3 linked regions of the Homo sapiens genome follow. The protein of the gene in region 3 interacts with the protein of the main gene of each other region in a biochemical or structural test. Each region holds a gene or a part of one and is shown on either strand. Other genes may lie near its edges.

Evidence for each region.
Region 1: the proteins of LYN (region 3) and LCP2 form a complex in vitro, tested with the Homo sapiens proteins (one study listed by BioGRID).
Region 2: of the proteins of LYN (region 3) and PPP1R8, one has a biochemical effect on the other in vitro, tested with the Homo sapiens proteins (one study listed by BioGRID).

Annotation. Positions count from the first base shown.
Region 1 is NC_000005.10:170,270,068-170,273,818, reverse strand, and holds part of LCP2 (lymphocyte cytosolic protein 2), read left to right. Parts: intron 1-2,901; coding exon 2,902-3,100; intron 3,101-3,751. UniProt on the Homo sapiens protein: Adapter protein primarily involved in signaling pathways within T-cells, as well as other immune cells such as platelets, mast cells, and natural killer (NK) cells.
Region 2 is NC_000001.11:27,847,632-27,851,382, reverse strand, and holds part of PPP1R8 (nuclear inhibitor of protein phosphatase 1), read right to left. Parts: intron 1,291-3,751; coding exon 937-1,290; 3' UTR 1-936. UniProt on the Homo sapiens protein: Inhibitor subunit of the major nuclear protein phosphatase-1 (PP-1). It has RNA-binding activity but does not cleave RNA and may target PP-1 to RNA-associated substrates. May also be involved in pre-mRNA splicing.
Region 3 is NC_000008.11:55,882,756-55,886,506, reverse strand, and holds part of LYN (tyrosine-protein kinase Lyn), read right to left. Parts: intron 1-3,751. UniProt on the Homo sapiens protein: Non-receptor tyrosine-protein kinase that transmits signals from cell surface receptors and plays an important role in the regulation of innate and adaptive immune responses, hematopoiesis, responses to growth factors and cytokines, integrin signaling, but also responses to DNA damage and genotoxic agents.

The sequences.
Region 1 (3,751 bases), on a different chromosome or scaffold from region 3:
CTGTTGGCCCTGAAAAGACCTCAAAGAGGGTGCAATCCAGTTGATTTTTACATTGAAAGGTCACAGTTCCCCCTCTGAGAGTCTGACGGATTGTACAACCCCTCCCCAGGAACCTGTATACACAGTCACCACCCATGAAGCAGTCTCAGGCTAAGAACTCTATTATGGACCGTAGCCCAATCTGTTCATTTTACAGATGAGGCAACTGAGTCCACAGGAGAGCAGAACGTGACGTGCGTAGAACACAAAGTTAGTTAGAGGCAGACCTAGGACCCAGGTAACCAGACCCTCAGTCACGTGGGCCTTCTGGTAAGAGGCCACCTCTAGTGCCTTCAGAAGGCAGAAACAAACTGTCCCTTGACCTATTGGGATTCTGGTAAAAGAAAGTATTTAATTGGAAAAAAAACAAAAAAAAGATTTAGCTAAGTTTATGCTTTCTACCTGAAAATGAAGGAATTTGACAGATTTCTCTGGTACAAAGGGAAAATAGCCCAGAGTTTCCGCTGGAATGTTTCTGTTTACTCACAGAGGCAGAATCCTTGCCATGCAGCCTCTCTTGTGCTGTGCCTGAGGCTAGTCTTCGATCCTCTCTGTAAACTGAGGGCTTCCATTCACTAGTGGCTATAGAGCTTGGCAGCTCCGTTATGTGCCCAGCTCTTTGCAAGGGCATACTGGGAAATGAGTGGAGATAAAGGACCCAATCATAAGCATTTTACAGTATGGATACCCCATTTTAAAAAGGTAAACTGAGGCACAATGCAATTTTTTTTTTTTTTTAAGGAGTTTATTTGAGCAAACAGTGATTCATGAATCAGGCAGCACCAAACCAGAAGGAGGCTTTGCTGAAGAAGGATGAGGGACAAGCATTTATAAAGTGAATGTAGATGTAATACAAAGAAAATATTTGAACCGGGTGCGGTGGCTTACACTTGTAATCCCAACACTTTGGGAGGCCAAGGCGGGCAGATCACAAGATCAAGAGATCGAGACCATCCTGGTCAACATGGTGAAACCCCATCTCTACTAAAAAATACAAAAATTAGCTGGGCGTGGTGGTGCGTGCCTGTAGTCCCAGCTACTTGGGCGGCTGAGGCAGGAGAATTGCTTGAACCCGGGAGGTGGAGGTTGCAGTAAGCCGAGATTGCACCATTGCACTACTCCAGCCTGGTGACAGAGAGAGACTCCATCTCAAAAAAAAAAAAAAAAAAAAAAAAAAAAAAAGAAAATATTTGATGGGTTACAGTTATAACCGATCTCATTTAGTCTATCTTGCTGGAAAGCTCCTAGTTATATAATTATGAGTTGGCTGGCTACTTCTGATTGGTTGGGCTTAAGTTCTGTTTTTCTTTAATACAGGCATTTACAAGAAATAGCCCAAGTTAACTTTTGCTTATGCTGCAAATCAAGTAAGGTTTAGGTCACTGATGAGGCCCAACTGGTTTTGTCTGCTCAGGGATTCTTCAGGCCTGGTCTCCATTTTAATTTACTTTAACACACATATGGCAGAATATAATTAGCAACAACATCATGCATACAAATTTAGGAGCCAAATGATTGGGAGAAAATAATTGTTCTAGAAGCAGAGAGGAAAATTCTGTCATTTGAGAAAGGTTGATGGGGTAAAGAGCTGGTGTAAAGTCAGGAATGATGGGCCTAGGGTAGACAGGGTGAGGAAAGGGTCAGCAGCCTGGAGGGAGGCCACGTGCCTGCGGACCTCCATGCTGAGGCTCTTGATCTGAAGCAGCATTCCTCTGGGGCTCTGCCCACCTGCTCCTAAAGTTATAAGAACCCTGACAGGGCAGGACAAAGTCTTTTTTTGGAGTTGGGAAGGCACCCAATGCTCACTTTGCCCCTCTGTTGTTGATGTTTTTAATATTCCTCAAGTCAAAAACAAACACAGGACTCTCTCAACAGAACAACGTAAAGACAGTCTGCCTGAGGCCACCCAAAGCTGTCAGGATTTCTAGGACACTGGAACATTTCTTTCCTCAAAAAGTGGCCACTTCCCATTGCTTTTTCCCACACTGCCCTTGAGTGTTGAGGTCTGGGCTCATTGACTCACCCCCTGGACTTTGGCATGACCATGATGAGCGCTCATCACTGCTGCTGATGGTGCCGCCTTTGCTTGGGAGGTCATTCTGATGCTCATTCACCTTCATGGACTGCTTCAAAGGCAAGCATCCAGCACCTCGGGCTTACTTTCCCTGAGATCCAAGAAGAAGCAAAAATAAAATACAATAAAAAATCTAAAATTTAGAGATTCTTTCCAAGAGAACAGCTTCAAACTCAGTGTCAGATTTCATGAATAATGGATGTGTTGATACACTCAACTTTCAGCAAAAAGAACAGCACAGCCTCTGACGGTCCCCTCCTCGACACAACTTAATCTGCCTTCCACTTAACAGGCTTTGTTTATCTGTTTTTCCCCTTAGCCGGGCCTTCAACGCTGCACCAGGTTATAATGAGAGGACATTTTTTGAGCACAGGCACCCTTGAACAGAAATGGCAATTAACTAGTATCATCACAAATGCTCCAGGCCTTTAGTCTTTCTCATGGTGATGCCTGGAGCAAAAAATGTGTTTACTCAAGACAGAGCCTATTCCGGTACCTTCTATTCCAGCATCCTTCCCCTTTCTTCTCTCTCTGTTGTGCAGAAAGGTGTTGTGTAAAAAGGTGGTCCGAAGACCTTCACCAAGGTCTCAAGTCCATGACTTGCTGCCCCTGTGGTACAGTGCTCCCTGACCTCAGATTCCTCATCTGTAAAATGGGAGTAACCATCTTCAGGCTGCCTGGTCCCGGGTTATACTGTTGTGAGGCTTGGCAGGGAGAGAGTAGGCACAGGCACATCGAGGGCCACAGAGCCTCTACAAACTGCACTGTCCCTATCACTGTGTGGGCAGGAAGAAGACGATTATGAAAGTCCCAATGATGACCAGGATGGGGAGGATGATGGAGACTATGAGTCCCCCAATGAGGAGGAAGAGGCACCCGTGGAAGATGACGCGGATTATGAGCCGCCACCCTCCAATGACGAGGAAGCTCTGCAGAACTCCATCCTGCCTGCCAAGCCTTTCCCCAACTCCAACTCCATGTACATCGGTAAGGGCCCGTTTCCGGATTTTCTGGCCCGAGCAGCCCAAAGGCAAGCTCGCCACTGCTGCATGGAAGGCTGATGCCCCAGCTTGCCCATGTAGCAGAAAGCTCTGGGTCTCGATATCTGCTCGGCTTCTTAACAGCTATGTGGCTTTGTACAAGTAACTCTGTCTCTCTGGGCCTCAATTTCCTCATCTGTGAAATAGGATAATAAATGTACAGACCACATAGGTTTCCTGTGAGGACTACTAAGACTGCAACCAATTCTTGCCTATGGTGGCTGATATCAGCATTGAACTACCACCTAAGGCTATTTGGCAGTTTCAACTCATTCTGCAGTTTACTCAGGTACTCCAAGAGTACTTTCCTGTTCCTCCCCATCTTTTGACCAAATTATAGTTACATGGCATTATTATGCTAGAATAAACATGAAGATATTGAGTAGGGTTTGACTATAACTTTAAAAAATATTAGATGGTGTTTACGATTTTTATTGTCTATCTGTCCTTTTAGCCCACTTCTCTCTCCATTCATTCAACAAACATTGTTGATCTGCTGGGAGCCCAGGCCCCATTCTCAGTGCTTAGAAATGATCAGGAAAGAAGAAATAGCCCCTGCCTCCTGGGGCTTACATTCTAGTAGTGGTGTTGACAGAAA
Region 2 (3,751 bases), on a different chromosome or scaffold from region 3:
TAGCCAGGTCTAGTCTTGGAGCTCTGAATAACAAGAGCTCTCAATTGAGGGGGGAAAGAGCCTCCAAACTGACATCTAAAAATTCCTCTTAGAGACACCAGTTACTTCCAAACAAATCTTTTCCTTTTTAATTTGAATTACCCCAACTGGTCATATCCTTTGAAAACTGCCTTCATAATACACTTAAAAGTAATGCCTTAGAGTAGAGGACAGTACTCTGGAATTAAATAAGAAACTTCAGCAGGAGGAGTGCTCAGGTTTGACAAGAAAAACAGGTAAATTTCAAACAATACTGTAAGTTAAAACTATAAACCTGTGTCTATGGCACCAGTCACAGATGAAGGAAAATCGAAATGTTTTCATTCCAACAGGAAGGACAAAAGAGAAAAGCCTAGCTACTGGACCTCAAAACCACTGACCCAAGGAAACATTTTTTAGTTTAAACCTCAGCTTAACTGCAGAATTCTAAGCCTTCTTTTTGATCAAACTGAGATCTATGGCAACCCTTCTGCTACCCGGGACTTGGAAGGATAGTGAATATAAATTAGGCTCTGGACCCCCAAGGCTGGTGATGCTACTGTAACCTCTACAGCTCTGGATTCAACCTGAGGGCCTGGGATATGTGACTTTACATAAAAATGATCCTAGAAAGTGGGAGAAAGAAAGGAGGTAGTGGAAGGCCTAGGAAAGAGCCAGGGCAGTCTATTGAAAAGGATATAAGAAGCCTTTCTCTACAATGCAAGTGTTGTGAAGACAGGTCTTTATGGGCTATTTCAACCCCACCCCCAATTGTCATATTACATGGTTAGGATGCCAGGAGACATTCTGAAAGACGATACCGCACACATGGAAAGTTTTTCTCCCTAGTTCATTAGCTCCCCATCACCCTTCCACCCCATTCCCACCCAATCCCACCCTTCTCCATGACCAAAAATATCAAATCAGCAAGGAAGGTGTGGGCTTCTTGCCTGGCCAAGCCTCTTTTGCATATTTCTTCTTCTTGGGTTCATTTACAGCTTCAGGGTTATAGACTGCAGGGTTTGGTGCAGGGTTCATGTTCACTGCTGACGGCACAACAGGAGTCAAGTCCACATCAGGGGCAAGGTTTGGGTATGGCATGGGCAAGCCACCGATGAGTGCTGTCCCATGGATGCCATGTGGCTGGGAGCCTGCTTCACTGTGTGTGGGGGGCAGGCCCCCGTAGAGTCCTCCGCTGAAGGCAAAGTTCTGCATGCGCCTGCTCCCTGATTCCTCCAGGCCCAGGGAGCCAGGGCCCTCCACACGCTTCTTCTACAGTTCACGATGAGGAGAGGGGAGAGATTGGAGAGAGAAGACAAGAGGTGAGGCCCAAGAGTGGTTAGCTTTTTCTATTCCAGCCTTAAAAAAATGGCTTTTGGGAAAGATTCCTAACTTCTAGCCTGTTCTCCTTTCCAGACAACCTATTTCATGATGTTGAAATCTTACGGTTTGAAGAGACCTTTCCAGTCATCTACGATGGTTCCCAAACACTGCTCCATAACAAAGTTTTCACCATCCTACATCAGCCAAGGATGGTGTTGTGAGTTTTACATAAAGTAAAACATATCAATTTAATTTATCCTAAAGTTACATAGCTCACTTTCTTATTTCATATTAAAATGCCCTTTTAGGAGGAACACATGAGATCAGGAGTTTGAGACCAGCCTGGCCAACATGGCAAAACCCCATCTCTACTAAAAATACAAAAATTAGCCAGGCGTGGTGGCAGGTGCCTGTAATCACAGCTACTCGGGAGGCTGAGGCACAAGAATCACTTGAGGCAGAGTTTGCAATGAGCTGAGATGGTGCCACTGCACTGCAGCCTGGGTGACAGAGTAAGACTCTGTCTCAAAAATAAAAAACATTTTTAAAAAAATCCCTTTTAGGAAATGGAAATGATAAAAGATGGCAATAGATATTTTACCCTTTTTTGAGGGGGAAAAAATGTGGTATGTCCATGTTTGGTGTGCAATTTTTTTTTTTTTTTTTTTTTGAGACAGAGTTTCACTCTTGTTGCCCAGGCTGGAGTGTAATGGCTCGATCTCAGCTCACAGCAACTTCTGCCTCCCGGGTTCAAGCCATTCTCCTGCCTCAGCCTCCGGAGTAGCTGGGATTACAGGCATGCGCCACCACGCCTGGCTAATTTTGTATTTTTAGTAGAGACAGGGTTTCTCCATGTTGGTCAGGCTGGTCTTGAACTCCGGACCTCAGGTGATCAGCCCGCCTCGGCCTCCCAAAGTGCTGGGATTACAGGCGTGACCCAGCACGCCCGACCTGGTGTCCAATTTTTAAACATTAATCTGAGAGCAAAACCAATCTACAGTGAAGAAAATATTTACTGGCTGCCTGGGCCTGGGAGTGGGCTGCTGCAAAGGGCTACGAGGCAACTTTTTGGAGTGAGAGAAATCTTCTCTATCTTGATTATGGTGGTGGTTACACATATATTTGCCAAAACTATATACGTAAATGTGTAGATTTTATTATATGTAAATTATACTGCAATAAAATTGACATAAAACTATACACCTGTTGATTTTGTACTTTAATGACAAGAAAACATTCCAAAGGAATAACAAACAAACAAAAAAGCTCAAGGGGCATTATGGAATCCCACAGAAAAACATCTACTTTTCCATACTAGACTAAAGCTCATGAAACATCCTGCTCAATCCTATACTCCTTTTGGATTAAACAAAGTCTAAGCAGGAACTCTGACAGATCTTACTTAGTCTAATATATTTTAGAGATTTTTTTTTTATAAAAAGTAAAACTTTCTATATCATCTCTAACCAGCATTTTCTAATCACCTTCTGAATATTAACAGGGATCTCACTACTCTTAAGGGGAAGTTTGTTGCTGTTTGGACAGTTCTAGCTATCTGATAGTTCTTCCACATGCTGAACGATCGGAGCATCTCTGTAACTTCTACCCCTTGGTTCTTCAACATACAATCTTTTTTATTTAGATGGAGTCTCGCTGACGACCAGGCTGGAGTGCAGTGGTGTGATCTCGGCTCACTGCAAGCTCTGCCCCCCGGGTTCACGCCATTCTCCTGCCTCAGCCTCCTGAGTAGCTGGGACTATAGGCGCCCACCACCACGCCCAACTAATTTTTTTTTGTATTTTCAGTAGCGACGGGGTTTCACCGTGTTCGCCAGGATGGTCTCGATCTCCTGACCTTGTAATCTGCCCACCTCGGCCTCCCAAAGTGCTGGGATTACAGGCGTGAGCCACCGCACCCAGCCAACATACTTATCTTTAAATTTAATCCACATCTGGGCTGACATTCCTATCTGTGCCATTGCCACTCATAAAATAAAGGCATGGCAAACTGTGTGGTATTGCAATAATGCATCTCCTCCACCTAATAGCTTACTTTGAGTCCGAAGAGAAAGGCCAAAAGAAGGTGGGCCTCTCTCTGCACCCCTCTGGAAAATGAATTTACAGATTCATATTGCACATTATTTACATGAAACATCAAGCTGGCTAGTTATCTACAGCCTTTCTGTGGTACTCCAGGATTCCCTAAACATAGATTTCATTTCCACAGAATGAGAAATGGGAGAGGAGCATGGTATGTATTTTAAAATTAAGCACTCACTCAACAGCACATAAAGAGCAGGTTATTTTTTTTTTGAGATGGAGTCTCGCTCTGTCACCAGGCTGGAGTGCAGTGGCACCATCTCAGCTCACTGCAACTTCCACCTCCCCGGTTCCAGCGATTCTCCCACCTC
Region 3 (3,751 bases):
GGAGGCCGAGGCAGGCAGATCACCTGAGGTCAGGTGTTCGAGACCAGGCTGGCCAACATGATGAAACCCTGTCTCTACTAAAAATACAAAAATTAGCCGGGCATGGTGGTGCATTGGTGCATGCCTGTAATCCCAGCTACTCGGGAGGCTGAGGCAGCAGAATCGCTTGAACCTGGGAGGAGGGGTTGCAGTGAGTGGAGATTGCACCATTGTACTACAGCCTGGGCGACAGAGCGAGACTCCATCTCAAAAAAAAAAAAAAAAAGATGTTTGACAGCCACTGTTCTATCCCAAGAATTTAACAAGGAATTTAACAATTTTTAAAATAGTCCTGAATTATTATAGTTAGTATTTAAAAATTATTATGTAGCCTGAACATTAAAAGATTTCGAAACGTCTACCCAAGAGTTTCATAACACTTTCCATGACGGGGAATTTCAAAATGTACATTTTTCCGTTGCTGAAAAAGTCAGGCATGGCCAGGGTGGGCTTCGCAAAGCAGGCTCTGCCCTTAAGACTCTAGACTGCTCCTCTCTCCCACCCCGCCCCACCCCTCACTTAAGGGCAAACCGAAAATGCAGAGGGCAGCAGAGGGTAGAAAGAACCCCGAGGAAAACGCAGCATTGGGTGGTAAGGAAGGTGGGGCTGCAGGCAAATGACCCAGGGGCCTGGGGTGGAGGAAGTATCACTTCCTTGCCTGCCTCCTCTGGGGCCTTTTCTCTCCAGCATCGGGCTACAGTTCTGCTCTCCGTGACACAGCTTCCCCCTGGAAAGCAGAAGTGGTCCTCCCTCTCCAGAGAGCCTCTCTGAGATAAGCTTCTCCATTCCCCTCACCTCCGTGGGGGTTAACATTTACAGGAAGAGTGGGGGCACCCAGAGACCCAAACACCAAGAAGACGTCATTGCTTCAGTGGGAGGCAGAATGAATACACACCCATCTCTCCAGTCTCACTGTACCAGCGCCCAAGGGTAGGCCCAAAGACCACACGAAGACCTCCCCACCAGATGTTTTACCAATGGAGGGAGGAAAGCGGGGACTGGAAAGAAGCTTCCAACCAGTATGGTCTGGTGTCAATAAAGAGGAGTGAGCAAGATTTCAGATGCTCACAGAAAGGTGTGGGCAGGCAGGCAATATGTAACTTTGCCTGAAGCATGGACTGTAGAAAGGAAATGAGACCAACTAAAAAACTATCTGAGCTGTGAAGACTTCTTCCCAGTGTTCTACAACCCAAAAGCAGAGCCTCAACCATCAAGAAACAGCCACTTAACTGGATTATTTAAATGTATCCCGATTCATGCAGTTCTATAGGATGTCATTTAAGTAGCAGCATTCTGAACACTGAGCATTTACAATAATGAGGTTAACTGACAATCTCTTCCCATACACGGTCAGCTCATGCCAATTCCTGGTTGAAGAAGCCTTTGTAAGATGATAGGGAATGAAGTGGGGAGAGCAGAAGAAGGGGTACTGGAAGCCTGAGGGTTAATAAAGCTCAGTGAAAGAGCAATGCCATGGAAGAGTTCTATACCAAGGAAAACTGTATCCTGAGTGTAAGTACAGCTTTTAAGAAATAGCTCTGTGGCAAATAAGGAATGCTGCCAGCTAATTCAGTAATGAGAGAAAATGAAGTACAGAACAGGATGAAGGGGATAAACAACAAAGGCTACTACAGGCCCTGCTCTTGTCAGCATGGATGAGGCTTTTTAATACATCATCCCAAGTATTTAAACTTGCTCTTCTAAATTACAAGACAGGGCCAGGCACGGTGGCTCACACCTGTAATCCCAGCATTTTGGGAGGCCGAGGCGGGCTCACCTAAGGTCAGGAGTTCAAGACCACCCTGGCCAACATGGTGAAACCCATCTCTACTAAAAATACAAAAATTAGCCAGGCATGGTGGCGGGCGCCTGTAATCACAGCTACTAGGGAGGCTGAGGCAGGAGAATCACTTGAATCCAGGAGATGGAGGTGCAGTGAACTGGGATCACGCCAAAGCACTCCAGCCTGGGTGACAAGAGCGAACTCTGTCTCTTCAGTGGGAGGCAGAATAAAAAATAAAGAGAGCCCTTCCAACTAACTTAAGCCAAATATACCCCAGAAAGGCCAGGCGCAGTGGCTCACACCTGTAATCCCAGCATTTTGTGAGGACGAGACGGGCAGATCACTTGGGGTCAGGAGTTCAAGACCAGCCTGGCCAACATGATGAAACCCCATTTCTACAGGAAATACAAAAATTAGCTGGGTGTGGTGGCACATGCTTGTAAGTAATCCCAACTACTCAGAAGGCTGAGGCAGGGAGGATTGCTTGAACCCAGGAGGCGGAGATTGCCGTGAGCTGAGATTGCACCACTGCACTCCAGGCTGGGCGACAGAGTGAGCCTTCATCTCAGAAAAGAAGAACAAACAAAACAACAACAACAAAAATCTCAAAAGGTCCAAGTCTTTAAACTGACAAAATTTCTAATCCCTCCATTGGCAGATTTCCATACCATTCTCTACACATGGGTATCTCCCCCGAAAGGGAACTTATTCAAAATAAATTTTAGAAATGATAATGGAGTGAACTTAAAGTTTCACAATTTAAGTATCAGGAAACCAGACAGCTGTAAGAAATCTTTCAGTATTTCTGACTGGAAAAAAAAAACCCAACAACTTCCTCTTCCATGTTCTTCTCTTCATTATCAGCCTTAAAAGATGGGAGGCAATGTATATCTATACTGTTGGCCTAGAACAGTGCCTTGCACACAGCAGGTGCTCAAAATGATCAGGTGTTTTAATGTGCGTCCTATGAGCCCTGTCTCCTTAATTTATATTTTCACTTAAATGATGCTCTCACTGATAAAACAACCAGGAGGTTGGCAAAGTTTACAGGGAGACACTCCCAGCACAGGTCGGGGAAAGTCCTTTTGCAAAGTATTACTCAGGTACTTCTGTATTAACCATTAAGCAACTGATTGCCCCCAAGACAGTCACTAGGGCTGCTCGGACAGCAGCCAGTATAGGTGTCATCTTAGCAGTTACTGGAGACCACCCTTTCCCACCCCCAAGCAAAAAGCAGTGCTAAAAAGCACAGAAATTCATTTCTAGAAGACAGCTTGAAGTGCCCAGCTTGATGGTGCATCTGCTATGTCCTGAGCAGTTAGCCACTTAGTTCAGACAATTACCAAGTGATAAAAGAAAATTAACTCATGATTTCACTTTTAAAATGTTTGTTAAATGACCTATTTATTTGCTTTTAAGCACAGATGGTCTGCAACTTAATGATTTTTCAACTTTACGATGGTGCAAAAGCATTAGGCATTCAATAAAAACTGTACTTCAAGTACCCATACAACCATTTCATTTTTCACTTTTAATACAGTATTCAATAAATTACATGAGCTATTCAACACTTTATTATCAAATGGGCTTTGTGTCAGATGATTTTGTCCAACAGTAGGCTAATGTGAGTGTTTCGACCATGTTTAAGGTAGGTTAGGCTAATCTATAATGTTTAGTAGGTTAAGTGTATTAAATGCATCTTCTACTTTCAGTATTTTCAACTTACGATTGGGTTTATTGGGACACAGCCTCATCATAAGTTGAGAGGCATTTGTAATTGAGCACACACTACAAGTCCAAAGGTGGACAAGTAGAAAGAGCCAAAAAACATACCTACTACTCCTAATGGTACCGCTTAACCAAGCCTGTGACCTTAGACAACCCCCTGAATCTTTTTCTGTATCTGTCCCTCTCCATCCTATAGGAGCC